Linked DNA regions of Homo sapiens. The protein of the gene in region 3 purifies or fractionates together with the protein of the main gene of each other region. This does not show direct contact. Each region holds a gene or a part of one and is shown on either strand. Other genes may lie near its edges. The genes, in order: SLC25A24, ACAD10, TMEM108, RRN3, SFXN5, SLC25A23 and POU2F2.

Region 1 (4,199 bases), on a different chromosome or scaffold from region 3:
TGGGCATCTACAGCTCTATTCCCAACCTCCCTTCCAAGTGCCAGCCACAGCAACCCCAGCCAAGCAGTCAGTAACTAATTGGCAAATACTCCCTGAGCCATTGTCCCATTCTAGACACTGCCAGATGCTAGGGGTAGAGCAGTCAACAAGTCAGGTGTGGCCCCGCCAGTGTAGAGTAGAGAAGACGTTATGTCCAGCAAGTAAACAACCTGGTTAAACCAACTCCTCTTTTGTTAGGGGAGCACAGAGCAAGGAGCTATAACCTAACTTGGGCGCTGCAGAATGCTGTCAGTGAAGCTGAGACTGGAAAGATGAGTGGGAGTTAGCTGGGCACAGGCCAGTGGAGTGGGAACAGAAAACATTCCAGTTGAGGGAAAGCATGTGTGAAGACACTGAGGCAGGCACCAACATGGTGTATTTAAGGAGCTGAGAGACAGTCATGGCTGTAGAGAAAAACACAAAGTAGTGAACTACACGTTTCTTGTGTATTCTCTCATTTCACCATCATAACCATCTTGGGGATGGGAATACTAACATTATCCCCATTTTTCAGATGAGCAACTGGGGCAGAGAGAATTTAAGTAACTCCCACAAGATTATACCTGTGGTAAATAGTGGGACTGAAATTCAGACACATGCAGTCTGATTCTAACCCTCCTGTCTGCCAGCTCTGATCCAGAACTTTGCATGACTGATACGGCTGATAGATTGTCTATGGCTGATAGACTGTCATTTCTGACCTAAAAGTCTGATCATTTTACATCTGTTCAGACATCTTTGCAGCCTTTCGGTGTCAGTTCCAAAGTTGTTAGTGGGAATTTCAAAGCCTTTAATAATCTAGCCCCACTTTGTTCACTCTCTGTGTAATAACCACATACAACAATTGGCTGCATCTCCATAGCACATGGTACTCCTCCCGTTGTCTTGGTTGTGCCAGCAACACTGGTTTTCGCTTTCTCTTCCTGCTTGTTGAGGTCATTTCCAAGGCCCAGGTCTTTGTGCTTTTTCCCAAGCTTCCCAGAGCTTCTTCCATACTCCCCTTACTTCCTGAGATTTAACTGTTCTCTCTTCAGCGCTTGTCTAGTAAGAAGGAGGCAGCAGCAGCACTGTGGGGTGGTGGAAAGTGTACCAGCTTTAGAGTCAGACCATTGGATCTCAGCCCTACCATTTTCTACTTAGATTTTTTTAGGACAAATTTCTCCATCTTTCTAAGCCTCCAATTGCTCACTTACAAAATTGATATAACATTTACCTTGCAAGATTGGTATGGAAGGTAATTAACCCAGTATTTAGAACATAGTAATTAATAAATAACTATTATTACCATCATTACTATAGTTAGGACACTCACTGTTAGGTGCTATACAAAGAGGATCATAAAAGGGATGTTGTCTTGGGCTTCTTGGAATAAATGTTGTCCTTTTACTGTATTTTAGAATATCATTCTGGGTCATAATTGTTTGTTGTCATAATAATGAAACATACTTGAATATTAAATTACCCTCTTTTTTTATTTTTTAGCCATGTTAGAAGGTTCCCCACAGCTGAATATGGTTGGCCTCTTTCGACGAATTATTTCCAAAGAAGGAATACCAGGACTTTACAGAGGCATCACCCCAAACTTCATGAAGGTGCTCCCTGCTGTAGGCATCAGTTATGTGGTTTATGAAAATATGAAGCAAACTTTAGGAGTAACCCAGAAATGATGTTGCATTTTTTGCTTTAGCCTGATAATTGAAACTTTCAACAATCTCTGGAGTGACTTTTTCTCCTCGAATTGAAACAAGTCTATGGCAAAAGAAGCTGCATTTTTTTCACAAAAGGGAAGATGGTAACAATGGTCACTTCAAACTTTTGGGCTAAATTATATGTACACAGAAATGTTCAAAATCATAGTTTTAATGTGTTTTGAAAAGGCCACACAATTATACTTTATCTTTTCTTAATAATCCTGCAAATCTCTGCCCTGAATCCGAAATCTGAAAATGTACTGGCTTGAACAAAATTTGTTTTGTGTGTTAGAGTTATAAATCATTAATCTTTATTTCGGGTGGTTTACGTTTATGCCAGTTCCTTTATATTTAAATTTCTTGTTTTATATATTTTGAATGTCTTTATAGATTTCTTTAAATTTCCTTATAGAACCATTAATAGAAAATCATTACATTTAAAATATACCTTACAGCAAAAGCATCCAAATAAGTATAGGGTTTATGTCCTTATTTTTCTTTCAGCTGAATACGAATGAACACAGTGGTGGAATTTCTGAAGGGAAGTGATGAAATTATATTTATTTCAGTGGGCACTTTTCCATTTTACCACTGTACCATTATTTGGTTCCTGGAGTTATACACTAATTTTCAGTATATTACTGTTAAATTACCAACACAAGGCAATTTATTTGAAAGATTCCGTTTATCCTGCCATTGCTTTGAAAAGCAGCAGGAAACGAAATCCTTTGACTTGTATCAGCTTCTGCAGAGCATCTTTGTTTTCCTTTGTCCTTTGTTTCCTACCTTTTGAATCAGATTCCGTTTTAGTCAGGAAGACTTCTTGGGACCATTCTTAGTAACCTGAAATTTCTTTTTTAATTGCATGAAGTGGATTGATCATGAGCAAATGATGTGCTTATTTCTCCCTCACTGTTGAATATCTTTGAACTTGCTGTTTTCAATATGGGCAGCACAAAGGTGAGAGATACATATTAATAGTAGTATGTATTACTCTTATACATTAGATACCTATATTTAAATGAAAGGCCCAATTTGTAAACATATACATTCATATTCTCTCTTGCCCCAAGTTTTAGGAACATGTTAGGATATAGGAGACTTAATTTATAATAATGAGAGCATTTTTTTATTTTACTAAAGCCATTTTTATAGTCAACTATCTTTTCTTATTTGTGTGATTAGAACTTAGAAAAATATTTACTAGTTGAAGTTATTATCAGTTTTTAATTTAGTTCTTAAACTCATTTCACTTCTAATAATTTCTGTTATAAATTTCCAGCATTTTAATGAAAATCTAATGATGTAATAGGCATTTTCTTTATTTGAACCTACCTCTTTTATTTTCTGAACCAAAGAGAAAGATGGACTGGTGTTTGTGAAACATTTTTAAAAATGTAGTTTCATTTATATTAGTTATGTTTGATAAATGTCTCAGTATTTTTATAATATGATAAGCCTGGGATTCTACTTTTAGGGTTATTTGTACTTTTGAGTAATATATAAAGTGACAATATTAAGGTACATGATCAGCTCTTTCTATTTTTACTCGTAAAAATTATGGAAATGAATAATTTTGCTAACAACTTTGAAATTTCAAACTTCTGGAAAATATGAAAATATTCATTGTTCATTATGAATTTAAATTGTAAGGTATGAATGTGATTTGTCTGTACATCTTGTATCTTTTCCAAAAAATGATTCTGTATCTTTTGGAAAAAAGCCGAGAGTTGAAGATAGTATATTTCTGGTAGTACTGAATATTTACTTACAGTTTCTATCAAAAATATATATTTGTTTCTAAAATTACTTGTTTTCCAGTTTTTATTTTTTTTAGAGAAAATTCTTAAGTCTCAGTTTCCTAATTGAAAAAAAAAAATTATAAATAAAGCAAAAATTGTATCCTACAGCTTAGCTAGCTTAGATGTTTGGCACCAGTTTGAATCATGCTTTTTACAGCTGGCTCCATGTAGTCTTTCCAAACATTTTGGCCTTTCCTGAGCAGCCCTTGTAGATATTGTCTGTATGATGCATTTTGACACAAGGTGATATTTTTTGTGATATCAAAATTCCACATTTACCCATTAGAGTTACAGCCCTGGGGTTCACAGTACCAAGGGGGACCCAGAGCCTCAGGATTGGCCAGGCTCATTTTGCCGTGGAGTATCAGTTTGTCTTGAAATTGTGGGAAAAAATTCTAAGTTGAATTCACTGGTAAGTAATTTTTTAAAATTTCATAATGCAGATTACATCCAAAATTTGATTTAAAAATTAAAACATAAGACTGCAGAGAAATTCTGCATTTCAACTCCAATACTATCCAGACTTCAGAAATAACTTATCAGTTATTTCTGTAAGCTTCTTGCTTACCTGGATACCTGACAGGTGAGATGGCTGTAGCAGACACTGGCAGTTCCCTGCCCACACACCTGTCCCTGTCCACAGCTGCACAAGGCAGCTCTGTGTGCA
Region 2 (4,199 bases), on a different chromosome or scaffold from region 3:
CTCTAAGCTCCAGTTTTCCTGGCCAGTACCAAATATCTCAGCTGTTCAAACAAAAATGATTTTAAAGCTAATTGTAGAAGACAAATGTACAGAAGTAATATTTATGTTTGTATAGTTGGTTTTTTCCCCATTCATCATACGTTTTTATATTATTCTTTCAAAAAATGGATTTTGTTGTTTTTACATGAGAAAACTAAGCCATTTCCTCAGTGTGTCTGGCTGGCTTCCCAGAGGGAGGGAAAGGAGTGCACAGTAAGATAAGAGGAATAAAGGCCTGAACAAACAGACATTTTTCTGTCTGGTGGCAAACAGGTGGGGTGTTTTAGCTCTGGGCCGAGAGAAACCAGAAGCCACAACGATGGCTCACAGGATCTTAAAAACATGTCAAAGGGCTTCCTGAGAGACAGGCTGAGGACACTCAGTGTGGAGACTCTAAAATGGGCAGTCTATTAAGCTTTTCCCAGGTCACTGGAGCAGAGCAGGGAGAAAACTTGGCAGCCGGCTAGGAAATATCAGAGGTGACCAGGACTATTCATCACCATAAGGACTTAGCAGCCATTCTGTTTAAGTAAATATTTCTGGTTAGTGTTTATTGGAAAACTATAAAAAAAATGGGAAATAGTGGCTTACAGCTGATACTGTATTTTCCTAAAAGAGGGAAAATATTGTTTCCAGAAATTCCTGCTTCCAGCATCCCCTGCTTATCAGACCAGGTACAGTTAAACTAGAAATTCTCTGGGTACTGGTTTTTCTCCGGACAGTTTTTCTCATGACTGTGTATCTCCAGGACCACCTAGCACAGTGCTGGCTTTTAGTAGAGGCTCATATACTTGGGAATGAATGATCAATTCCCCTACTGCAACTGCTTCTCTCAGAAGACTCTGGCAACCTGGCTGAGAACACAGGCTGCCAGCAAGCTTGGGGTGTCACTGACTGCAAAGCTAAACACTCCATCAGCACTAGCAAATCCCATGATGAATTCCTTTCTCCTTCTTTCTCCTTGCCTTTTGTTTTTAAGTTTTGCTTTTGGAAAATTTCTTTTTCTTTTCTTTTTTTTTTTTTTTTTTTTGAGATGGAGTCTCGCTCTGTCACCAGGCTGGAGTGAACAGTGAAGCAATCTCGGCTCACTGCAACCTCTGACTCCCTGGTTCAAGCTATTCATCTGCCTCAGCCTCCCTAGTTAGCTGGGATTACAGACACCTAGTAGCTGGGATTACAGGCACACACCACCAAGCCCAGCTAATTTTTGTATTTTTAGTAGAGACGGGGTTTCATCATGTTGGCCAGGATGGTCTTGATCTCCTGACCTCGTGATCCCCCCGCCTCGGCCTCTCAAAGTGCTGGGATTACAGGCATGAGCCACCGCACCTGGCCTTTTTTTTTTTTTTTTTGAGATGGAGTCTTGCTCTGTCACCCAGGCTGGAGTGTAGTGGCACGATCTCTGCTCACTGCAACCTCTGCCTCCCGGGTTCAAGTGATTCTCCTGCCTCAGCCTCCCATGTAGCTGGGATTATAGGCGGCATCACCACACCCAGGCAATTTTTGTATTTTTAGTGGAGACGGGGTTTCACCATGTTGGCCAGGGGTCTCAAACTCCCGACCTCAGGTGATCCACCTACTTCGGCCTCCCAGTGTGCTAGGATTACCGGCGTGAGCCATCATGACTGGCCTCCTTTTGGAAAATTTCAAAGACACACAGGAGTAGAGAGGAGAGAATAACAAGCCTACGGGTTCTACTGCTCGCCTTCCGCAATGATCGATGCCAGCCCAGTCTGGTTTCATTCCCTGCCATCCCCACTCCCACTGTCCTGGATTTTTTGGAGTAAATCCCAAATATCTCATCTAGGATTCTTTCAAAACTCTAAAAACAAATGTTTTTTAAAAAACCCACAATACTATTATTACCCTTAAAAAATCGTTAACTGTTAACTTCTTCATATCATCGACTATCCACTCAGAATTCAAGTTTCAGTGACTATCATCAAAATTTTTTCCAAATAATTTGTTCAAGAAAGGATCCAAATAAGGTCCCAACACTGTAACTGGCTAACGTATCTTTTAAGTCTCTCCCCGCTCCCCCCACCTTTTTTTTTTCTGAGACAGTCTCACTTTGTTGCCCAGGCTAGACTGCGGTGATGCAATCATGGCTCGCCGCAACCTCCGCCTCCTGGGTTCAAGCAATTCTCCTATCTCAGCCTCCCGAGTAGCTGGGATTACAGGTGCCCGCCACCAGGCCTGGCTAATTTTTATATTTTTTAGTAGAGACAGGGTTTCCCCATGTTGGCCAGGCTGGTCTCAAACTCCTGACCTCAGGTGATCCACCCACCTCGGTTTCCCACAGTGCTGGGATTACAGGCGTGAGCCACCACGCCCAGCCTGATGTTTCTTTTAAGTCTCTCTCAATCTACAGGTTCCTTTTTCACCCTTTTCCTCCCCTTGAAATGTAAGTGTTTGAAGAAACTGAGTTGTTTGCCCTGTGATGTTTTCCAGAATCTGGATTTTGTGAGTGCTGTGCCCAGGGTGCTGCTGAACATGTCCCTCTGAACCCTGTGTTTCCCATGAGTTGGCAGCTAGCACTGGAGACCTGGGCAGAGTCAGTGTAACTTTTGAGGGAAGCATCAGGAGGTATATAATGTCTGGCTGTCTGTCTCTCAGTGGTGTTGGCTTTCATTGAAGCTTATTGCCCACATCCATTAATGCATTAGGAGTTGCAAATTGGTGATATGCAAATTCTATATTATTCTGTCCAGGATACTTCTCTAGAGAGAAACATTCCCTCATTGATTATTTGGATAGCCTGCAGTATCATTTGTACAGGAAAGACAGGACAAATGCTTGATTCCCCACCCCCCCACCCCATTTTCCAATTTTCAGAATAATAAGTTGCTTTCCTGGCAACCTCTGAGGTCATCAATGAGACTTTGTCTCTTTGTTTTTGTATCACTACTCATGGACTTATTTATTTAATTTTTATTTTTGGGGGGACAGTGTCTTGCTCAGTCACCCAGGCTGCAGTGCACAGGCGCGATCTCAGCTCACTGCAACCTCTGCCCCCTGGGTTCAAGTGATTCTCTCTCCTGCCTCAGTCCCCTGAGTAGCTGGGATTTTAGGCGCCCGCCATCACACCTGGCTAATTTTTGTATTTTTAGTAGAGATGTGGTTTCACCATGTTGGCCAGGCTGGTCTTGAATCCCTAACCTCAAGTGATCTGCTCACCTTGGCCTCCCAAAGTGCTGGGATTACAGGCCTGAGCCACCATGCCCGGCTACTACTCATGGATTTAAACATACCTGATGTGTTTCATCCATTTCAGCTATCATCCTTGGTGATGCCCAAAGTTTCCTATTGTTAGCAAGTGGGAGCCTGTTCAGGTTGGCTCCCAAGTCTTTTTTTTTTTTTTTTTTTGAGACAGAGTCTCATTCTTGTCGCCCAGGCTGGAGTGTAGTGGCACGATCTCGGCTCACTGCAACCTCCCCGTCCCAGGTTCAAGTGAGTCTCCTGCCTCAGTCTCCCAAGTAGCTGGGATTACAGGCACCCGCCACCATGCCTGGCTAATTTTTGTATTTTTAGTAGAGACACAGTTTCACCATGTTGGGTAGGCTGGATAGACAAGATGAACCTGGAACATTTTGTCATACTAGCGAGCAAGGAAGTTGTCAAAGACCACAGGGGTTTTACCTAAAGACTTGGGGACTGGCCGGGCTCAGTGGCTCATGCCTGTAATCCCAGCACTTTGGGAGGCCGAGGTGGATGGATCATCTGAGGTCAGGAGTTCGAAACCAGCCTGGCCAACATGGCAAAACCCCATCTCTACTAAAAACAAACAAAAAAATGACGCGGGTATGGTGGTATGTGCCTATAATCCCAGCTTCTTGGGAGGCTGAGGCATGAGAATTGCTTGAGCTGGTGAGGTGGAGGTTGCAGTGAACCAAGATCGCACCACTGCACTCCAGCCTGGGCGACAGAGTGAGAAACTGTCTCAACACACACACACACACACACACACACACCAAGAAATTTGCCTCATATAGTTGTTAAATATGCAAATGGTCACACACATATTTCACAGAAATTCTTAAGCTTACAAAATTTTAAAATCAAAGTACCGAAAAATACACATAGGATGATCACATTTGTGTAAAAGTAGGAGGAGAGAGAGAAGACAGATAAACAGAAAAACTGGAGGGCCCAGGAAACTC
Region 3 (4,199 bases):
GAACCCAGCCTGGCAGGTTAAGGAAGGCCTCGCTGAGGAAGTGACATTTAGACTGGGCCCTGCAGCAGGATGGGTTGGAGTCACTGAGGTGAGCAAGTGAAGGGGGTGCTGGGGAGAGCCTGAAGATGTTGTAGGAGAGGCGACAGCCCATGCACACACCTGGAGTGGGTGTGATGTAACCTGGTGCTGTGAAGGAACAAAAAGAAATCCAGTGTGGCTGGAGCTTAGCAAAAGATGGGGAGAGGGGTGTGATGTGAGGCTGGAAAGTTGGCCTGGGTCTAGGTCTACCTTGCAGGTCCTATACAAGACTTTGAACTTTAACTGGAGAGAAATGAGAAGGTTTTAAGCATGTGAGCGATGTGACCACAGTTATGTTTACAAAAGCTCACCTTGGCTGCTCTGGGGAAGGGACCCACACGGGAAGGAGGGGTGGGGTTGCACCTCCACAAGAACTCTTCTCAGCTCTCACTGCCTTACTCAGATGTCTGTTATCTTTCTCCTGGGCCATCTCAATTGCATCCTAGTTGAGCTACCTATTTTTAGTCTGTCTTTCTGTGTCATTCCATCTATTTACTCATCCATCAAGCCATTATTTTCTTTCCTTATCCATTCGCTGATCACATATAGGGTGCTTTCACCAGGCCATCAGCATAATCCTTCTAAAACTGGGTCACCCAAAGATCAAAACTTTCAGTGACTCTCTGCTGCCCCAAACTAGAGTCCCAATGCCATAATACCCCATTAAGGCTGTGTCTAATTGGGCCTTTATCCTTCTTTACTGTTTCACTCTGGCCTCTACGCCACCCTCCGTGTGAGGATGGAAAGAGTATGGATTCTGTGGTTAAAGTCCTGGGTTCAAAGCTCAGCTCACTCACTGACCAGCCAGGTGTCTTGGGCAAATATGCTGACAGTGTATTCTTCTTTCCCTTCAGATCCAGCACGTATCCTCACCTTTCCTCAGGCTACCTCCTCTGCTGGAATGCCTGTTGAAATCCATTAATCCTTCCTAGCATCTGCACTGGGAAGGCTTTCCTCCTTGGGTTTCCACAGCTCTTTGTCTATAACTCGTCTGTGTTTGTGTTTCCCCTAATTGGCTTTGTTTTTGGGTGATGTTGGGGTTTGTCCTCCAGCCACATCTCAGAACCTGAGCCCCTTAGGAGCAAGCTCTCATCTTCATAGTGCCCTGGGAGTGCTCGGCACAAAACAGGTCCTCACTGAGTATTTGTTCACTTGTTCCCAGAAACCAAAAGTCCCAGGAACAGTGCTTCCAAAATTTACTGTGCAGAAAGCACCTGGGGATTCTTGCTAAAACACAGATCCTGGCTCAGTAGGACCAGGGTAGGGCCTACAACCTCTTGGGTGTTATTGATACTGCTGGTCCATGGGCCATACGTTAAGGAGCAAGGCACTCAGAAATGAGCAGATGCCCCATGGCTCTCTTTGGACCTGGTTTCCCTGCAGTGGGGCCAGCACTTTCAAGCTCATTACCTCAGAGGTTTCAAGGGACTGGATCTCCCTGGGCAGCTCCACAGCATGCCTGTTGAAGTAGTCCATGGTGATGGTGTTGTTCCAGTAGCTCAGGTTGTTCTCCGGGTTGGCGGTCTTCTTCTTCCTCTTCATGCAGCACACCGTCAGCAGGACAGCTATGGAGAGAGTGCAAGTCAGAGAGGAGAGGGAGGCAGCAAGGATGGTGCCTGGGTTGCACCACCGAACTGATGAGGAGAGTTCCCAGCTGGAGTAAGTGTATGGTGGGAAAAGGGGCAGGGCATGGTGAACTGTACAAAGTGAGCCTTAATTCCACAGAAGACCTTTACAGCAGAAGTTCACAGAGCAAAATCACGGGGCAGAAGTCTTGAATGCTGATAAAATAGCTTTTCTGGTACTATCATCATCATCATCATCATCAAAAAATCCTGTGTTAATAGTTATATAGGACTTACGTCCCAGGCATGGTTCCAAGGACATAGAAATATTCATTTAATCCTCTATTTAGCCCCATAAAGTCAGTACTGTTAGGATCCCCATTTTACAGATAGGAAAACTGAAGCTCAGAGAGGTAAAGTGATAGGCCCAAAAGCAAACCCAGACATCTGGACTCCAAAGTCTATGGTTTTTTTTTTTCTTTTTTTTTTTTTTTTTGATGGAGTCTAGCTCCGTTGCCCAGGCTGGAGTGCAGTGGCGCAATCTTGGCTCACTGCAACCTCTGCCTCCTGGGATCAAGCGATTCTCCTGCCTCAGCCTCCCAAGAAGCTGGGATATTACAGGTGCCTGCCACCATGTCTGGCTAATTTTTGTATTTTTAGTAGAGACAGGGTTTTGCCATGTTGGTTAGGCTGGTCTCGAACTCCTGACCTCAGGTAATCCGCCTGCCTCAGCCTCCTAAAGTGCTGGGATTGATTACAGGTGTGAGCCACTGCACCTGGCCAGTCTATGCTCTTACCAGCTGATTCCTGCCTTAGATTGATGCAAAAGCCCACCTGCACAGATGGCCTGAGGTGGGCTCCACACAGCTTGACTGAGCACAGTGTGACATGTGACCCTGTCTGTTCATCCCTGAGACTCCCAGGGCCCAGGAGGAAGAATTATGTCTCGATATTGTTGATTAACCATGTGTGAATTGAGTGGCTTGTGAGCAGGGAAGGCTTCTGAGGTCAGAGAGGTGGGGTGGCCTGTCCAGATTCACACTGCAGAAGGGTAACACAAGGACAAGGGTGACAGAGGCCTCTTGGGGAGAAGCCATGAAGTGAGGACTGAGTATATCCTGCCCCAGGTTCATCATCACCAGAGCCTCTGGGGATGAGGAGAGCTGAAGCCAAGAGCCACATCTGACATCCTGGTGGTGCCAACCATCTCTGTGCTGGGGAGTCGGGGTCCCAGGCTGGGCTGTCCAGAGAGGCCAGCACCGGGGGTTGGCAGAGGGCCAGCTCTGTTCGCAGCAGCCTGAGGGTCTGGCCAGCATCAGGGGTGGGTTCATGCCAGGGTGTGGGGCAGTTGCACAAGCTGGCACCTGTATAGGCTGAGACCTCACAGCCCAGAGCCCAGGGCCCTGTAGGCTGCCTGGGGAATTCTGTAGCTTTCTTTCCAGCTGCCAGCCTTGCTGGCCTCTCAACCTGGAAAGGTCTCTGTACAAGGTTAGGAGATAGGGTAAGTTTCTACTTTATCTTATCTGCTTTGATCAAAAAGACTTCTAATTTGCTTTTCAGTCTTCTAGATCCTTTTTAAAAAATCTTTAAAACATAGAAGGAATTTCTGAGTGTTAGGGCTAACGGGGATTTGAGAGATTAGCTGGTACAGAACTTTTCAAATATTGTGGATCTCTTTCCTCTTTCCCTCCCTTCCTTCCAAAAAACCCTTTCTTCAGATGGTTGAAGAGGAAAGGGGCAAGGAGGGGGCTGTGGTGCTCAGCCTGAAACTTGCTAATTCAGGCCGCCTCCTTATTCTAGAGGAAAAACTGTGGCCTAAAGTGCTGGCCGCCTTGCCACAGGTCACAGGTATGTGAGTGGCAGAGCTGGGACAAGATCCCGGGTCCCCTGTCCCCTTCTCTGGTGTCTCTGTTCTTCATTGTCACTACCTTTCACTCTGCTCCTGCAGCTGGCATGGTGAAACACCTGGAGGAGTTCTAGCTGGTGTGACAGAAGCCATAAAGAGGGAACCATCTGGGAAGTGGGAAAAGTGCTGTTTCCTCAGCTCCAGCTCAGTTTTGGTAGAGTTAGAGCTAGAGGGAGGGGAGCAATCAGGACAAACAGAACAGCTCTTCAGTTATCAGCCTGTAGGGGCACATCCCATCATGCCCCACAAAACACTGCCATAGACACAGAACACAGGCTGGCAGGGGAAAAGTGTATCTGTGAGTCAGATTTGTATAGTTTGCACGCCTCTCTAAGGTAGAAAGATATTTGTGCCTCTGATCTACTGAGCAGTTATAAGCAAACAGAATCAAAGTGACAGATGCCATCTTAGGCCTAGTCAATAGGGCAAAAGGGACATCGAATTTAGAATTAGAATCTAGGTGACAATCTATTACTTGCATGACTTGAGTAAGTTACTTAACCTCTCTCAGCGTCAGCTTCCTTGGGAAGATTAAATGCAGTCATACATCTGCCAGCACTTCAAATTGTCCCTGGTGCACAGTAGGTGCTGAAACAAATCAGCCCCTTCCCCCAGCCTACATTCTTATTCTAGAAGGTGGGGCATGGAAA
Region 4 (4,199 bases), on a different chromosome or scaffold from region 3:
TGTATAGCTTCTGAGAAAATCTATAACGACTTAGAGAAAATAAGGTTCTGTTAACTCTGATATCAACAGCAAATCAAAGAGGGAGCTTCTCTCCCACAGAAACATAACAGCACTTTTGCTGACATTTCCCACTACACATGTATATTATTTTTAAAAGAAGAAAAAATCATCAAGTTGGATTTTTTTTAAGTTAACAAATAATCAACGGACAGAGGGAACTAGAGGTCCACCCCTCCAAAAGAAACCCACAAACCTGAAAAGCTTTTCTTAGAAGTGCAATTTTTATTCATATGGCATGACACAAACACACCCAGGGGTTTCTCACTGAAAAATTTTGGATAGCATATCTGTTGAAGATAAAAGCAAAATTCCAACCACCATACAAAATTGGGGGAGGATCTGCATACAAACTTTGAAAAACAATTAAAGAGAATAAATAGAAAATGGAAATGCCACTTTTTGTAGAATGTAATGTTTCCTCAAGTGGATACAAAAAAAACATGCAATGTAAGACTCAAGCTTTAATACTATTAACATTTTATAATTTTTACTAATTGATTACAATTTTCTTGAGAATTAAACATTCAAAATAAGGAAAAGTATACTCACGATGGTACATATCTTGCTATTATTTGCAAGGCTCTGTGACATGTGTCAAAATTTGCAGGAAGATCTGAAAGGAGAAAAGTTCAGAGTATGAGCATCAAAACAAAACTGAAGGGCGACACGCTTGAAGCTAAAAATAAATGCTGGCTGGGCACAGTGGCTCACGCCTGTAATCCCAGCACTTTGGGAGGCCGAGGTGGGTGGATCACCTGAGGTCAGGAGTTCGAGACCAGCCTGACCAATATGGTGAAACCCCATCTCTACTAAAAATACAAAAATTAGCCAGGCATGGTGGCAAATGCCTGTAGTCCCATCTACTCAGGAGGCTGAAGCAGGAGAACCACTTGAACCTGGGAGGTGAAGGCTGCAGCGAACCGAGATCACACCACTATACTCCAGCCTGGGCAACAGAGCGAGACTCTGTCTCAAAAAACAAACAAACAAAAAGTGACATACTTGAAGCTAAAAACACATGCTAACCAAAACGGAATAATTTATCAGAGAAATAATAATTTCAAGATTTTTCTCCACCAGCATCAACGAAAATTAAATGGACTAATTATATAAATAATGCATTCAGGACAAATGACTGCATATCAATGGTAAATATAACAAAAAGATTACATCAAAGGTTGTCATTTGTTGCAGTCTACTTATTAGAATAGGTGCCAGGTATTCTGTGCTTTACTTTTTTTTTTAAAGAAGACAGTGTCTTGCCACCAAGCAGGGCTTGAACTCCTGGGCTCAAGCAATCCACCCACTTAAGCCTCCCAGGTAGCTGTGACTAAAGACACACACTACCCTGCCTAGTTCTACTTTAAGCCTTTTTTAAGAAAATATTTGAAAAAAAATGTTTTTTTGCAGAGACAAGGTCTCACTATGTTGCCCAGGCTGGTCTCAAACTCTTGGCCTCAAGTGATCCTCCCGTCTTGGCTTCCCAAAGTGCTGGGATTATGGGTGAAAGCTACTGTGCCCAGGCTTTAAACCTTTTTATACTTACTATCATCTTCATCATCAGAATCTGAAACATCTACATCGCCTTCCTTAATGATCACTCGGGCTTTTGAGGGAAAAAGAAAATATGTTATTCTGTCATTGATCTAGACAATGAATGGCTATACAAAAAAAGTTACTGACCTAGACAATGAACAGCTATAAAAAAAGTTATTTTTCCATAATCCAAAGTTAGCCCAATGATTAATTAAACGCACAATCTGAAAAAAAGTAAAGCAACTTTATAGTTTTTAAACGGCTAAAAATTCCTAGATTTCACCAGGAGTTCAATAAAGCAAATAAATTCATAAAACTCACAGCAACAAATGAATCTAGACACCTCCATAGGGGTCATTACGGGGAATATATGTCTACCAGACCTGGTGCCAATATGCATCTGGAATCTTCCATGGTAGCAGTCTCTCATATATAAGGGGAAGGTAGTATTTTAATAAAGAAGTATTAAAAAGAAAATAAAATTCCAAGCAATGACTTACGAGGCACAAAATGGGAAGCAATCATGCTGAGACACGGTCTGAGGAAAACAGTCTGTGCTGATACAAGATTACCAAGAAAAGCCAAATACTCTTCCACTACTGTTTGACTTCTATTCAACCAAGGCAATCTCTAGAGTGGGGGAAGAAAGATAAAAGCAGCATGTTATTAATATAACATATACTATTACCAAAGTTCTGAATTACATACTTTACAGTAAAATAAATGGTGAACTTACTAATATAATACTGATAAGTTGCTCAAAGTCTTTTGTCAAGTACATGATAGAAGAACGGAATTCTAGCAGCCAGTTGATGATCTGGTCATCCTTAAGTTAAACAAAGAGTACTTTCAAAATCACAAATCCTCTAACATAACAGAAATTTACAGCTATCTTATATCAATCATTTATCAAGAATAGGTTGGGGGGAAAAGGTCACAAACTTGGAAGGAACTCAAAACTGGGTATTAAAACAGAAAAAGATGTCACAATAAATTACTTAACTGTTTTAAGAAAGTAATCTAGTAACTCTAATACACAGGAGAAAGACTTAAATGCAATACTTCAGCCTGATCACTTCTGTTTGCCCTGAAAAAGCGAAATCACCTCAAATGTTGACACCTGGGACTTTTAAAAACTGCAGCATTCTAGCAGACTGAAATATTAGAAGATCACAAAGGAACAATAGCTACCTCTATTTCCTCTATATTCAAGCTGACCAGGAAGCATGCTGATAAAACTCAGTCGAGGCTGATCAATTGGGGTCATGAATAAACATAACTTTTCTAAACCAAACCTGTGGCTGAGTTTAAATATATTATGATGTGATTGTTCTGTATAAATGATAGCCCCATTCCTCCATGAAATATTTTTCGGGCAATCAAATTACTGTTCATAGTAATTGTTAGTGACATGAGAAGAACTGCTAAATTTGAAACGCAATGTATAAAATACAGTGTCAATTATGTAAAATATTACTATATTAATTATATTCATGCATATATACTGCACAGGAAAAAAACCATTAAGAAAAAGCCCCTAATTTGTGGAAGGCTTAGACATATAAATAAAAGCAACACAAGGTCATACCTACAGGGATATTCATATGGAGTTATCATTTAGTGAGAATACACCATATGCCAGGCATGGTGCCTGACACTCCACATATATATCTTCTTCTAATCCTAAAAACTCTGCAAGATGTTTAGTTATTCCCATTTTGCTGTTCAGGAAGCTGAGGCTAAGAACGATTAATAAGCAATCTGCCCAACCAAGAGGCCAGTAAAGAAGCAGGTCCAAACCCGTCTGTCTCGGTCAAGGCTATCCTCTGTCCACCGTCCCACACGCCTCCCTATATGCGGAGAAGAAGCTGTCCCCTTTTCCCCACCTTAATTCAGCTACTGAGTGCTTACTATGCCATATCCATGTGTCAAACTCCCACAGATCAACCATTTTCTGATGAAATCCCAAGTAGCCTGGCAGTAAAATAAAGTAAAACCACAACTCATTTGTACTATGGTAATTTCATATGTCCACAACTGTTAAGGATAACATTAACGGTAGCTCACTAAGGCCAAAGGCATGTAGAAAACAAGCTAAGTTAGTGTACAAATAAAATAAACTATCCTATCTCTTTTCCACTAAAAAGACTGCAACAAAACTATAAGGATAACATTTAAACTGTACCATTTTTAAAAGTAAATCAGGCTGGGCGTGGTAGCTCATGTCTGTAATCCCAACACTTTGGGAGGCCGAGGTGGGTGGATCACCTGAGGTTGGGAGTTCGAGATGAGCCTAACCAACATGGAGAAACCCCGTCTCTACTAAAAATACAAAATTAGCTGGGCGTGGTGGTGCATGCCCGTAATCCCAGCTACTCGGGAGGCTGAGGCAGGAGAATTGCTTAAAAAACTCGGAGGCAGAGGTTGCAGTGAGCCAAGATCATGCCACTGCACTCCAGCCTGGGCAACAAGAGCAAAACTCCGTCTCAAAAAGAAAAAAAAAAAGTAAATCAGTTGCAGACTTTGATGCTTTAGTACTGAACTATTATTATTTCTACTAGCAGGCAGGAACAGTGGCTCATGCCTGTAATCCCAGCACTTTT
Region 5 (4,199 bases), on a different chromosome or scaffold from region 3:
GAGCCTACCACCCCCAACCCTGGCCCATCCCCTCCCATATTCCCTCCGAGAATGGCGTCACCAGCCACCCCAGCTCCTGAGCTAGAATTAGGAGTCATCCAACGCACAGTCATCCTCAACACCTCCCTCTCACCCCCACGTGGAATTGGTCATCAACTCCTGTGGATTTCATCTTCAGAAAGGCTCCTCCTGTCTTCCCCCACTGGCAGCATCATAGGGCAGGACCTGGCACTTCTCTGATTCCCACAGATGCTCCCCAGGAGGCCTCCCCACCCCCTCCTTACCCCTCCAGTCCATCCTCCACACCCACCATCCCAAGAGAGACCTTTCTAAGACAGTCTAAGGCCAGGCACGGTGGCTCATGCCTGTAATCCCAACACTTTGGAAGGTGGAGGATCACTTGAGGCCAAGAATTCAAGATCAGCCTGGACAACATAGCGAGACCCTGTCTCTGTAAAAATTTTTAAAATAATTTAAAAATTAGCCAGGCATGGTGGCATGTGCCTGTAGTCCTAGCTACTCAGGAGGCTGAGGCAAGAGTTTGAGGCTGCAGTGAGCTGCAGTCACACTACTGCACTCCAGCCTGGGTGACAGAGCGAGATCCTATCCCAAGAAAAAAATAAAAACAGAGGCTGGGTTATGGTCCACTCCTGCTCAAAGTCCTTCTGTGGCTCCCTATTGCCCTCAGGTAAAATGCTGACACCTTCATGTAGCCTACAAGATTCTGCCTGTCCCAGCCACACCTCCATTTCCTGCCACATTTCCAAGTCCAACATTGCCCCGCCTCCCAGAAACAGGCCATGCTAGCCAGCTAATATTTTTTTCTTCACCCAGCAAGCTTGGCCTGCCCTTTCTGATCAAAATCCTCCATTCTCTTCCTGGCTCACCACCTCTGAGAAGTCTTCATTCCTTGTTCCCTTATCAATACATTGGAACTCCCAACCCCTCCCCAGTTGCCATGGCACTCTGCTTGTCTCTCTGGACTCCATCTGCATTCACCAGCCAACTCCTCTCTAGACTTTAAGCTTCTAGAGGGCATGAGTTGGTCTTGTCCCCCTCTGTGTGCCCAGCCTGGGTGTCTGGAGTTGGTGACCATCAACATCTGCTGACAGGAGGGTGGATTGACTTGAGAGAGGAAGCCTAGGATGTCAGCTCTGTCCTGGGGCCCCTGCTCCTGATCCCTCAGCCACCTCCCCCAGGAGCCTTCCCACTGCCTGCATCTCCCCCTGCTCCTACCTGCTGCCCTGTGTGTGGCGGGGAGCCCATGGGAGACGGGGTGCCAGGAGGAGGAGGCCTCGGTCTCCCCCGGGCCAGCATGCTCTAGGGAGTGGGCACAGTGGGCCGTGGCCCTGGGCCGTGGTCCTGCATGGTGGTGCTGAGCAGCCTCTCTGATTTTAATGTGGGCCTCAGTGCTTCAGTGAAAGCCGGCATGGGAAGTTGCTAATAATGGCACTAAAATAAAATATGCTACATCTGTTATGGGTAGCAGAACAAAATTAGCTGCTCACACCTCTGACATCCAAGATGTCTTAACTTAAAATACTCCTTGGCTTACTTTACATCATTTACTGATTATATTTAAAAGAAATACAATTTTGCAATTACTGTTCTTTCCAGCGTGATATCTATGCATCATTTTCCTTTTATGTTTATATATTTCTCCTTCATTAGTGCAGTCTGAAGGGTGATTAGGATTCTTCAAACATTTTACAGAGGTTAAACGTTGATTAAGATTTAATTATTACTGTAAATAGCTTGGAATGACATATGGTGCAAAAGCCTGACATATGTGCATTTGAATAAATGAAGTGCTATTTCCCAGGATGCCTCAGTAGCTGTTTAACAGCTTTCCCGAAGGGTTATGTTACACCTCATGGTAAGATTGCTGGGATGTTATATTTTGTTGGTTTTTGCAGCTGAAAGCTAAGAACAGTTTTCCAGTTTTTTAAAAACATTGAATATTTTAAATACCTAAATTGTTTTGCACAAATTTTTGCTAATTTGTCTAACTAGGTTAAACATTTTCAAAAGCATTTAGATTTTTAAGCGTGGGCGCTGTGCATTGTGTCAGTGGCAGCGTGGGGACGAGGGGAGCCGGCAGGGTGGAGGGGACTGGGGGTGGCAGGGGTGGGGTGGGAGAAGGTGGTTTGAGAAGACGGAGTGGCGAAGAGGCCTGGGCCCTCAGCCTGGCTCTCCTCTGTTTGGCCCTCTCGGGTGACCAGACTTGGGTAACGGGGTACCAGCGACTACAGAGGAAGGGTCCTCTCTTCTCCCACTGTGCCCACCAGCTCTAGTCCTCACTACACTCCCTCTTATGGGGACTCCAATGTGCACAGCCCAGACATGACAGAGCTCTCCGAAGGCCAGGCTGGCCTGTACCACCTTCTGCCCACTTCCCAGGGTTGCCACATCTTGACATATGGCGGGTGTCTAGAACCAAGTTCAACCAACCTAAGTTGCAAGAGGCCTGGTGCCTCCTTGACTCTGTCCAGGGCAAATGTCCGGCGGGGACCTTCTCACTGCAGTAGTGTCTTTCTCACCTGCCCCCCTCTAGCTAGGGGCTCAGGCATCCCCACGGGCTCAGTCCCTGGAGATAAAGCCCAACATCGGGGCTGATGTGGTGTCTCCAGGGGAACCCCGTCTTCCAGTGCCTATTCTATTCCAGTGCTCTTTTCTTTCTGCCCATGTATTCCACACTGAGGGAGCACCTACTGTGGACCAGCATTGTGCTAGGCTTTGAGGACACAGGGGCGAGACAGATCCGCACGTCCGCTGCCTCAGGGAGCTTGTGATCTAATGTGGAGAGGTGGGGTATGAGAAGTTCAGGGAGCTATGGGGGCCACAGAGGTGGCCACGCCCAGCGTAGGGGAGGGAAGGTGTCTAAAGCTGAGACACGAAAGATGATGAGCTGAAGACGGGAGAGCAGAGTAGGGGCAGGAATGGAAGTAGGACGGGGTGTCTCTGAACAACTCAGGCAAAGACTGGAGTGGGGACAGAGCCCAGGGTGTGCGAGGAACCAAAATCAGTCCATGTGCCCTGTGTCTCCAGTCCAAGGAGCAGGGTGGCGCGGGAGTCTGACTTGATCCCTGAGGATCAGGGTGCCATGGAGCCATTTCACAGTGAAGAGAGGCATGGGAAGACTTGCAGTTTAGAAGGCCGGCACTGGCTGTGGTTGGGGACGGACTGGGCTGGATGAGACCTTGTGGGGAGGGACGGGGAGAGGACGCAAAGAGGCTCCAGAGTCTTTGGGCAGAGCACCACTGGATGGCGGCGTCATTCCCGAGATGGAGAGCTGAGTGGGGCCAGGGGAGAGGGCAGGTTCAGTTCCATTTCAGGTGGGTTGAGTTCAGGCGCCTGTGAGACATCCACAGCAAAGTTTGGCAGGCAGGCGGCTGTGAACCTGAGGCTCCAGGGAGAAACAAGGCTGCAGAAATCTTGTGTGGGGGTAACCCAGGGCATGTGCAGAGAAGAGGGCCCAGCCAGACCAAGCCCCAAGGACCCCGAGGAGCATGCAGTGGGTGTCGTGAAGTGGGGGGTGGCAGTGACCTTGGAGAGAAAGATTTTTCTGGAGTGTGGTGAGAACAGAAGCCAGATTTACTGTGGGTTGAAAAGTCAGTGGGAGGGAAGGAGGTGGACACAGCCAGTGTAGACCAAGTTTTTTAAAGAAACGTGGCTGCTGGGGAGGAGAGAGACCAGGTAGTAGCTGGGCCTGCCTTGGGATGAAGGGGAGGTGTCATCAGAGAAGGTTCCTGCATGTGGAACACTAACGGGCAAAGGTGGGAGAGAGGGAGGATGACCCAGGAGGGGGCCCCGGAGTGGGCAGGGGAGGTGGAGCCAGGTGGGGTCCTGTCCTGCGAGGGGAGGGATGGCAGCTGTGGGGTGGGAGGAGGGCAGGTGGAAAGCCATGCATGGACACGGAAGGCAGCGGGTTTGATGATGGGAAGCTGAGGGTTTCGCCTCTGACACCTTCAGCTTTTTCCCTAAATAAGAGGAAGTGTCACCTGCCCAGGATGCGTGGGAGCAGGGGGTGGGTGGCCAAGGAGAGGAGAGCAGAGCAGGTATCCAGTGGCCTCTGGAGAGTGGGCGAGGGAGCTGACCTGGCTATGGGGGCAGGGGTGGGGTGGTTGTCTGCAGTGGTTGGGGGTCCAGCCAAAGTCAAGGACAGGGAATTTTGAGGGTCTCCATTACATGGTCAGGTT
Region 6 (3,928 bases), on a different chromosome or scaffold from region 3:
AACGGTGCGTGTGCCTGCGGTCCCTGTGGTCCCAGATACTCAGGAGGCTGTGGTGGGAGGATCGCTTGAGCACAGGAATTCGAGGCTGCAGTCAGGTACGATTGTACCACTACCCTCTAACCTGGGCTGCAGAGTGAGATCCTATCTCTCTCTCTCTCTCACACACACACACACACACACACACACACACACACAGACACACAAATTGTTTTAAGCCATTCTGTTTGTGATAATTTGGTCTGGCAGCCCTAGGAAAAGGATAATTTGAAAAAAAATTGAAATTTGTAATTTGAAAAAAAATACAGAGGCCGGGCGTGGTGGCTCACGCCTGTAATCCCAGCATTTTGGGAGGCTGAGGCAGGTGGATCACTTGAGGTCAGGAGTTCGAGACCAGCCTGGCCAACATGGTAAAACCCTGTCTCTCCTAAAAATACAAAAAATTAGCCGGGCGTGGTGGTGGGTGCCTGTAATCCCAGCTACTCAGGAGGCTGAGGTAGGAGAATCGCTTGAACCCGGGAGGCAGAGGTTGCAGTGAGCTGAGACCGTGCCACTGCCCTCCAGCCTGGGCAACAGAGTGAGACTCCATCTCAAAAATAAATAAATAAATAAAAATAATAAAGCCCAGAAAATTTAGAAGGGGTTATAAACAGGGACTCCCTCCCCTGCTCCCATTTTATAGATGTGTAAACTGAGGCTCAAAGAGGGAATCATTTCCTGGCTCTTGGAACTGTGGGTGTTGGGAAGCAGCCCCTTGTCCCTTCCCTAGGGGTAGACTAAGGTGGTCCCATAGCCACCCACCCCCTTTTCAGTAAAAACCACAATAAAAGAGCTTAGAAAATTTATTCCTTTTGTTCTTTTCCTTTGAAATAACACACACAGGCAGGGAGGTGGGGCGCAGTGGAGGTCGAAGGAGGTGGAAGCGTGCGGAAGTCCTCCAGCCCCTCCCCAAATCCCAGTTCCCCTTTCCAAGTCCCTCCATGGGGTCTCCAGATGATCCTAAGCTCAGAATCCAACTATGAAGTGCAGAATGTAAGGGCGCAGGGGAGGAGGACTTTGCTCCTCTCTCTGGTAGAAAAATAGATCTGGAATGAATTTGGGGATTTGGTGGTTTTTTTTTGTTTTTGTTTTTTGCATCATTGGGTGCTTGGGTTTAGGGAAGGGTGGTCTTTGCCGATTTTCTCCTGGCTTTCAACTCTGGAAGCCTGGGGAGGCCCTGATAGTGCTGGGGTGGGGACATCCCTTCATGTGTCCCTGGCCTCAGACTGTCTCCTTGCCAGCCTCCAGGAGTGAGTGATTCCTCGGACCCCTTGGAGGAACACAGCTCTGGGGACTATTCGCCTAGAAGGTGGGAGGGGGATGGAAGATGCTGTGAAGTGTGGGGATGCAGGGAGTGGAGTGGTTCCAGGGAACAGTTTCCCCACAGGGCTGGGAGGGGGTGGCCATGCAGAGGTGGGGTGAGGGGGAATCCAGCATCCGTGCAGGTTGCAGCCAGGACCTGGGCTTCCTTCCCCACAGACTCCCTCGACCATGCAATTTCATGTCATGAGAAGCCGGCTCTGGGCACCAGTGTGTGTGGGATACTCTGTGACTGGGCTGCCAGGATCTAGACTTGGGGCCTGAACATTTGGGACCCGGCGCCTGGAAGATTCAGATCAGAAACCGGGGATTCAGGGCTTGGGATTCAGTGCCTTGGAATATCAGGATCTGCCTTCAAGAGATGAGGTTTCAACATTGAGGGACTGGGCAGAGGGATTGGGGACCCAGAATCTGGAATCCAGCAGCTGCAGTTGCCAGGATCCACTTGCTGTGCCACTGGGGCCCCCGCACTTGTTTTAGGAGCCAGAATCTGGTGGGTGAAGGCTTGGGAATCTGGGATCCAGTGCCTGGGGGTGGAAGGCGTAGTGCTTGAAATGCAGGGATCTGGCAGTCAGCAGAAGGATCTGAGACCCAGTGTCGAGGTTAAAAAAAAACAAAAAACCAAAAACCAATGCAGGAATCCAGTGGGTGGAGTGAGGGGATCTGGGATCCAGTGATGGGGGCCCCAGGATCCAGGCATTGTGGTTGTCAGGATCCAGTGGTGAGGTTTGTTGACATCCAGAATCCAGCAGCTGAGCTTGGAGATCCAGGGCTCGAGGCATGGGGATCTGGGGTTGGGGATCTAGGATCCAGCGTTTCACTAGGACACTGGATCTGGTGCCTGAGGGAGGCAGGGTCTGGGTGTTGAGGTACAGGGAATCCGTGCTCCTGTGGTTGGGGTGTTGGGATCCATTCACTGATTTGTGTGGGATCCAGTGGTTAAGACGTAGAGGTCCAGGATCCAGTAGGGGGCACAGGGAAGCGTGGGATCCACCTTAGGATGTGGGGCTGCAGGATCCAGTGATTTGGGGGATGGGGATTAAGGGCTGGGGTGTGGATAATCTTGAATCTTGTGGTTAGGGTAGCAGACTTGAGTTGCTGAAGTAAGGGATCCACAGTTATGGTTACAGGGGGATCTGGGATCTAGTGGCTGAAGGGTGGGGATCGCATGACCCAGTGGTTGGGGCATAGGAGTCTAGGATCCAGGATCTGGATGCTGGGATCCCATGACCCAATGGTTGGGGCATAGGAGTCTAGGATCCAGGATCTGGGTACTGGGATCTCGTGGCCAAAGAGTAGGGATCCTGTGGTTGGATCATCAGTCTCCAGTGGCTGAGGTGTGGGGGGTGAGGGATTGGGGGGACGGGCTCCGGGTCCCTCACCTGGACGTGACCCCCAAGGCCTGCTTCATGTTCTCGTAGACCACATAGGAGATGCTCACAGCTGGAATAACCTTCATGAAGTTGGGGGCGATCCCCCGGTAGAGGCCCCGCATGCCCTCCTGGGACAGGATGTGACGTAGCAGACCCAGCATGGACAGCTGGGGGCCACCCTCGATGGAGGCTGGGAGGGGGCGGGGGGGGCACCAGGTAAGGCCAACGTTCCCCTTTCACTTCCCCCTCCTACCCCCAGGGTTGGGCCAGGTGGTGTCATTGCAGCAGGAGGGAAGGAGGTTAGACTAACAGTGGGACCTACCACTCAGAGTCGAGACTTGTATTGACCTTGGAACTGGCTGCTCACCTTTTCGCCCCAAGTTTGGGGACAATTAGAAATGGAGCAGGTATGGGTGTGCAAGGTGAGAAAGGACAGAAATGTCCTCCTCCTGGAGCCAGGTTCCCTCCCTCCTTTCCCAGCTGACTCCTACTCATATTCCCAACCCCTATCCCAGAGCCAGCTCCCCAGGGGACTCCTCCTTGGTGCTCCAGTCTAAGTCAGGCTCCTCCCTGCCCTCCACCCACTTTTTGTTTTTTAGACGGAGTTTCGCTCTTGTTGCCCAGGCTGGAGTGCAATGGTGCAATCTCGGCTCACTGCAACCTCCGCCTCCCGGGTTCAAGCAATTCTCCTGCCTCAGCCTGCCAAGTAGCCGGGATTACAGGCATGCGCCACCTTGCCCGGCTAATTTTTTTGTATTTATAGTAGAGACGGGGTTTCTCCATGTTGGTCAGGCTGGTCTCCAACTCCCAACCTCAGGTGATCCATCCGCCTCGGCCTCCCAAAGTGCTGGGATTACAGGCGTGAACCACCACACCCGGCCCTTGAACTCTTAACCTCAGGTGATCCGCCCACCTCGGCCTCCCAAAGTGCTGGGATTACAGGCGTGTGCCACCATGCCCAGCCCTTTTTTTTTTTTTTTTTTTTGAGACAGAGTTTTCACTCCTGTTGCCCAGGCTGGAGTGCGATGGCACGAACTTGGCTTACTGCAACCTATGCCTGCTGGGTTCAAGTGATTCTCCTGCCTCAGCCTCTCGAGTAGCTAAGATTACAGGCGCCTGCTATCACACCCGGCTAATTTTTGTATTTTCAGTAGAGACAGGATTTAGCCATGTTGGTCAGGCTAGTCTCGAACTCCTGA
Region 7 (4,199 bases), on a different chromosome or scaffold from region 3:
CACATCTGTTTCTTGTATTGTGTTGGCCGGGGCCTTGCCTGGCTGTGGCCATGGGGTGTGTACTGTTGGCAGCTCTTGCCTGCTGTCAGCGCAGCTGTGGGGCCACCTCTCTTGTTGTGTCTGCTGCCTGTATCTCCATCCCTCCCTCCTGACAACTCAGAAATGTTCACTCCCTTGAGGCCACCCAGGGACAGCTGTGGGGTGGGGAGGGGTGAGGTGCTGCTTCTGGGGAGGACGGGGGCTCGGCCAGCTGGGCCCACAGAGGTTCCCGGCAGCACCAACCTGCCCACAGGGGCTCCCAGGCCATACCCCTAATTGAAGCAGGCTGCGGAGGCAGGGGACCCAGGGGACAGGACAAGTGGGGCCAGGAGGGGTGAGGGGCAGTCCTTGGGCCCTCTATATTTAGCCCCGTTTTCGGTAAGTGCTAACGAGAAGCTGGCCTAAGTCTGCTAAAACTGGCGGGGGGAAATGCAGAGGAGAAGTGAAAGTCCGGGGAGGGAGGAGTGGGAGGGTGGAGAGGACCAAGAGTCCCAGGCCTGGGGCAGTCGGGCAAGTGAGTGTGAGCTCAGGGCTGGGCAGCCCTGGTTGAGGGGTGTCTGACCTGAGGAAGGTGGGATTCAAGGGGCAACATGGCTCCAAGGGGCCTGGTAGGGCTATGCATTGCTTTTTCTCTTTCAGTTCCCCTAAAATATTACACATTACCTATGATGAGGGGTGGGAATAGCCATACATAACCAACCAATCTTTTGTGTGTGAATGAGGCTTTGAGAGGGGCTTCTGAAGGTGCCAGGGGATGGAGCACATTAGAATCACCAGGAGGGGGCTGGGTGCGGTGGCTCATGCCTGTAATCCCAGCACTTTGGAATGCTGAGGTGGGCGGATCACTTGAGGTCAGGAGTTCGAGACCAGCCTGCCCAACATGGTGAAACCCCGTCTCTAATAAAAATACAAAAATTAGCCGGGCATGGTGATGCATGCCTGTAATTGCAGCTACTCGGGAGGCTGAGGCAGGAGAATCGCTTGAACCCAGGAGGCAAAGGTTGCAGTGAGCTGAGATCATACCATTGCACTCCAGCCTGGGCGACAGAGTGAGACTCTGTCTAAAAAAAAAAAAAGAGAATCACCTGGAGGGGCTTTTAAATATCTGGATGCCCAAGTCACACCCTGTACCACTGAAATCAGAGTCTAGGGTGGGAACAGGCATCAATATTTTTCTAGAGTTGAGTGATAGGCGATGGGCATCTCTGCCTGGGCTCAGGCTGAGGCTGAGGCCGAGCCATTTGATGGACCCTCCAAGTCTATGATTGCTAGTGCCCTGGAGTCCCTGTTAAGGCGTCATTTGGCTTTTAGTCCACGGTGGAAATGGAGCTCCCTGTTCATTCCTGGTGGAAATGATCTGACCCTTCTCTCAGATTGAGCTCTGACAGGGGAGGTGGAAAGAGAAAAGACAAAGGGCAGCAGTTGGCCATTTTGTTGTGACCCAGCCAAGTGTGGGGCAGGGAGTATGCAGGGATATGTAGGAGTGGTTGGGATAATTTAGGGAGAATAAGGGTAACAGAATGGTGAAAAATTTCCCTCAAACCACTCTTGTCTTTCCAGCCACAGTCTCTGCAGAGGAAATCATACCTTAAAGATTTAAGTTAGGGTTTCTTGGGGATGTTGGGTGACAGTAGAGATAGGGGTTTGTTTTAGACAGGATTGGGCCCTGGTCAGTTAGGGGATTCTTTAATGCATTCATTCATTCCAAAGACGTACTCCTAGGCCTGTGCAGCAATGACTCCAGCCTGGGCTCCTGAGGAGCCCACAGTTGGGGTGGAGGTCTCTGCCCAGGATGATCAGGATGTGGTGGAGCACAGTACAGGGTCAGTGAAGCCCAGAAGAGAGAGACACTGACCATCTGGGGAATCAGAGAGTACTTCACAGAGGAGGTGACATTTGAGCTGGACCTTAAAGAGGAGCAAGAGTTTGCCAGTAGAGAAGGAAAGGGTCACCCAAGTGGGAGACGAGCAGAGGCAAAGGCCTGGGGGAGGGAGATCAGGACCTTGGGGCCACTGATCCACATGTCTTCTGCTGGGGAGTGTTTAGGAACCTGAGATCAGATCTGCCCTTGAAAAATTCCTAGTCTGATAGGGGAGACATAGTGGGGCCCGGCTAGCTACAGTCAGCCTCTAAGACAGTGACAAGGGAAGGTGCTAGGGTATGGGGAGCTGGAGAGAGACCTGGCTGGGAGCTGGGGGCATCAAGGTGGTGGTTTCATAGAAAACAGAGCTTATGGCCGGGCGTGGTGGCTCACGCCTGTAATCCCAGCATTTTGGGAGGCTGAGGTGGGCAGATCATGAGGTCAGGAGATTGAGACCATCCTGGCTAACACAGTGAAACCCCTTCTCTACTAAATATACAAAAATTAGCCAGTCGTAGTGGCGCGCACATGTAATCCCAGCTATTTGGGAGCCTGAGGCAGGGAATTGCTTCAACCCAGGAGACCTCTGGAGCTTGCAGTGAGCCGAGATCCCACCACTGCACTCCAGCCTGGACAACACAGCAAGACTCCATCTCAAAAAAAAAGAAAAGAAAACAGAGCTTATGCTGGGTTCTGAAGGATGAGTCCGGGGGTCGCCAGGTGGACAGATTGGGGAACAGTGTTCCAGACAGAGGGAACAGCCCATGCCAAGGCCTCAGGAAATGTTTTAAATGGCAAAGTGCAGGCATGGTGGCTCATGGCTGTAATCCCAGAACTTTGGGAGGCCAAGGCATGAGGATCATTTGAGCCCACGAGTCTGAGACCAGCCTGGACAACATAAGGAGACCCGTCTCTACAAAAAAAAAAAATTTTTTTTTTAATTAGCTGGATGTGGTGGTGCACAGCTGTAGTCCCTGGATGTGGTGGTGCACACCTGTAGTCCCAGCTACTCAGGAGGCTGGGATGGGAGGATAGCTTGACCCCAGGAGGTCGAGGCTGCAGTGAGCCGTGATTGTGCCACTGCATTCCAGCCTGGCCGACAGAGCAAGACTCTTGTCTCAAAATATAAATTAAATAAAATAAATAGCAGGGAGACAGTAAGACAAGGGTGAGAAGTAGTAGGAAACAGAGACTGCTAAAGAGAGGGACATTCAGCAGTTACAACCCGTTCTGGGCTTGTGATGCTGGGGACCCAGTGATGAGTCAGACCAGGCCTGTCGCATTGGTCTTGTGGGGAAGGAACCTGGACACAGACAGCCACAACTGGGGGCTCAGGGATGGGACAGCAGGAGGGCAGGGGCTGTGAGAGGCTTAGTTTGCTAGGGCTTCCACATCAAAGTACCACAGACTAGGTGGCTGAAATAAGAGAAATTCATTTTCACAATTACGGAGGCTGTAAGTTAAAGACGAGGATGTCAGCAGGGTTGGTCTCTTCCAAGGCCTCTCTCCTTGGCTTGTGGTCCACTGGTCTTCTCCTGGGTCTTCATATGGTCTTCCCTCTGTTCCCATCTGTGACCTAATTCCCTCTTTTTCTTCTTTTTTTTTTTTTTTGAGATGGAGTCTTGCTCTGTCACTCAGGCTGTAGTGCAGTGGCACGATCTCGGCTGCCTGCAACCTCTGCCTCCTGGGTTCAGGTGATTCTCCTACCTCAGCCTCCTGAGTAGCTGGGATTACAGGCACACACTACCATGCCCGGCTAATTTTTGTATTTTTAGTAGGGGTAGGATTTCACATTGTTGGTTAGGCTGGCCTCAAACTCCTGAACTGGTGATCTGCCCACCTCGGCCTCCCAAAGTGCTGGGATTACAGGCATGAGCCACCGCGCCCGCCCCCTCTTCTTATAAGGATGCCAGTCAGATTGTAGTAAGGTCCACCCTAATGACCTTATTTTACCTTAATTACGTCTTTAAAGACCCTATCTCCAAATACAATTACATTTTGAGGTATCAGGAATTAGGACTTCCGTGTATGAATTTTGGTAGATGCAACTTAGCCCATAGCAGAGGTTAAGGATGAGTGTGGACTTTCTGGGCTGGCAGTGGGGTCCGAGGCTGCCCTGTTCTGTGGACGGGAGAGGGATGCCCAGCTAGGTGGGAGTGTAGAACCTGCACAGCCTGCTGTCAAGCAGACCCCCAAGCAGGGGGAGATGCTCGACATGGGTGAAGAGCACTGTGCATGAGCTGCAAGAGAAGAGCAGTACAGGGTGGTGGGCCAGCCCCTGGAGGCCAGGTTGTTTATT

The links.
Region 1: the proteins of TMEM108 (region 3) and SLC25A24 purify together in Homo sapiens (affinity purification with mass spectrometry; 2 studies listed by BioGRID and IntAct, with this or other methods). This does not show direct contact.
Region 2: the proteins of TMEM108 (region 3) and ACAD10 purify together in Homo sapiens (affinity purification with mass spectrometry; 2 studies listed by BioGRID and IntAct, with this or other methods). This does not show direct contact.
Region 4: the proteins of TMEM108 (region 3) and RRN3 purify together in Homo sapiens (affinity purification with mass spectrometry; 2 studies listed by BioGRID and IntAct, with this or other methods). This does not show direct contact.
Region 5: the proteins of TMEM108 (region 3) and SFXN5 purify together in Homo sapiens (affinity purification with mass spectrometry; 2 studies listed by BioGRID and IntAct, with this or other methods). This does not show direct contact.
Region 6: the proteins of TMEM108 (region 3) and SLC25A23 purify together in Homo sapiens (affinity purification with mass spectrometry; 2 studies listed by BioGRID and IntAct, with this or other methods). This does not show direct contact.
Region 7: the proteins of TMEM108 (region 3) and POU2F2 purify together in Homo sapiens (affinity purification with mass spectrometry; 2 studies listed by BioGRID and IntAct, with this or other methods). This does not show direct contact.

The regions. Positions count from the first base shown.
Region 1 is NC_000001.11:108,134,160-108,138,358, reverse strand, and holds part of SLC25A24 (mitochondrial adenyl nucleotide antiporter SLC25A24), read left to right. Parts: intron 1-1,521; coding exon 1,522-1,706; 3' UTR 1,707-4,199. UniProt on the Homo sapiens protein: Electroneutral antiporter that mediates the transport of adenyl nucleotides through the inner mitochondrial membrane. Originally identified as an ATP-magnesium/inorganic phosphate antiporter, it also acts as a broad specificity adenyl nucleotide antiporter.
Region 2 is NC_000012.12:111,737,653-111,741,851, reverse strand, and holds part of ACAD10 (acyl-CoA dehydrogenase family member 10), read right to left. Parts: intron 1-4,199.
Region 3 is NC_000003.12:133,387,624-133,391,822, reverse strand, and holds part of TMEM108 (transmembrane protein 108 isoform 1 precursor), read right to left. Parts: intron 1,644-4,199; coding exon 1,489-1,643; intron 1-1,488. UniProt on the Homo sapiens protein: Transmembrane protein required for proper cognitive functions. Involved in the development of dentate gyrus (DG) neuron circuitry, is necessary for AMPA receptors surface expression and proper excitatory postsynaptic currents of DG granule neurons.
Region 4 is NC_000016.10:15,084,033-15,088,231, forward strand, and holds part of RRN3 (RNA polymerase I-specific transcription initiation factor RRN3), read right to left. Parts: intron 2,423-4,199; coding exon 2,333-2,422; intron 2,227-2,332; coding exon 2,097-2,226; intron 1,667-2,096; coding exon 1,607-1,666; intron 674-1,606; coding exon 610-673; intron 1-609. UniProt on the Homo sapiens protein: Required for efficient transcription initiation by RNA polymerase I (Pol I). Required for the formation of the competent pre-initiation complex (PIC).
Region 5 is NC_000002.12:72,945,753-72,949,951, reverse strand, and holds part of SFXN5 (sideroflexin-5), read left to right. Parts: intron 1-4,199. UniProt on the Homo sapiens protein: Mitochondrial amino-acid transporter. Transports citrate. Does not act as a serine transporter: not able to mediate transport of serine into mitochondria.
Region 6 is NC_000019.10:6,439,241-6,443,168, forward strand, and holds the end of SLC25A23 (mitochondrial adenyl nucleotide antiporter SLC25A23), read right to left. Parts: intron 2,920-3,928; coding exon 2,735-2,919; 3' UTR 824-2,734; downstream 1-823. UniProt on the Homo sapiens protein: Electroneutral antiporter that mediates the transport of adenine nucleotides through the inner mitochondrial membrane. Originally identified as an ATP-magnesium/inorganic phosphate antiporter, it also acts as a broad specificity adenyl nucleotide antiporter.
Region 7 is NC_000019.10:42,125,755-42,129,953, reverse strand, and holds part of POU2F2 (POU domain, class 2, transcription factor 2), read left to right. Parts: intron 1-4,199. UniProt on the Homo sapiens protein: Transcription factor that specifically binds to the octamer motif (5'-ATTTGCAT-3'). Regulates IL6 expression in B cells with POU2AF1. Regulates transcription in a number of tissues in addition to activating immunoglobulin gene expression.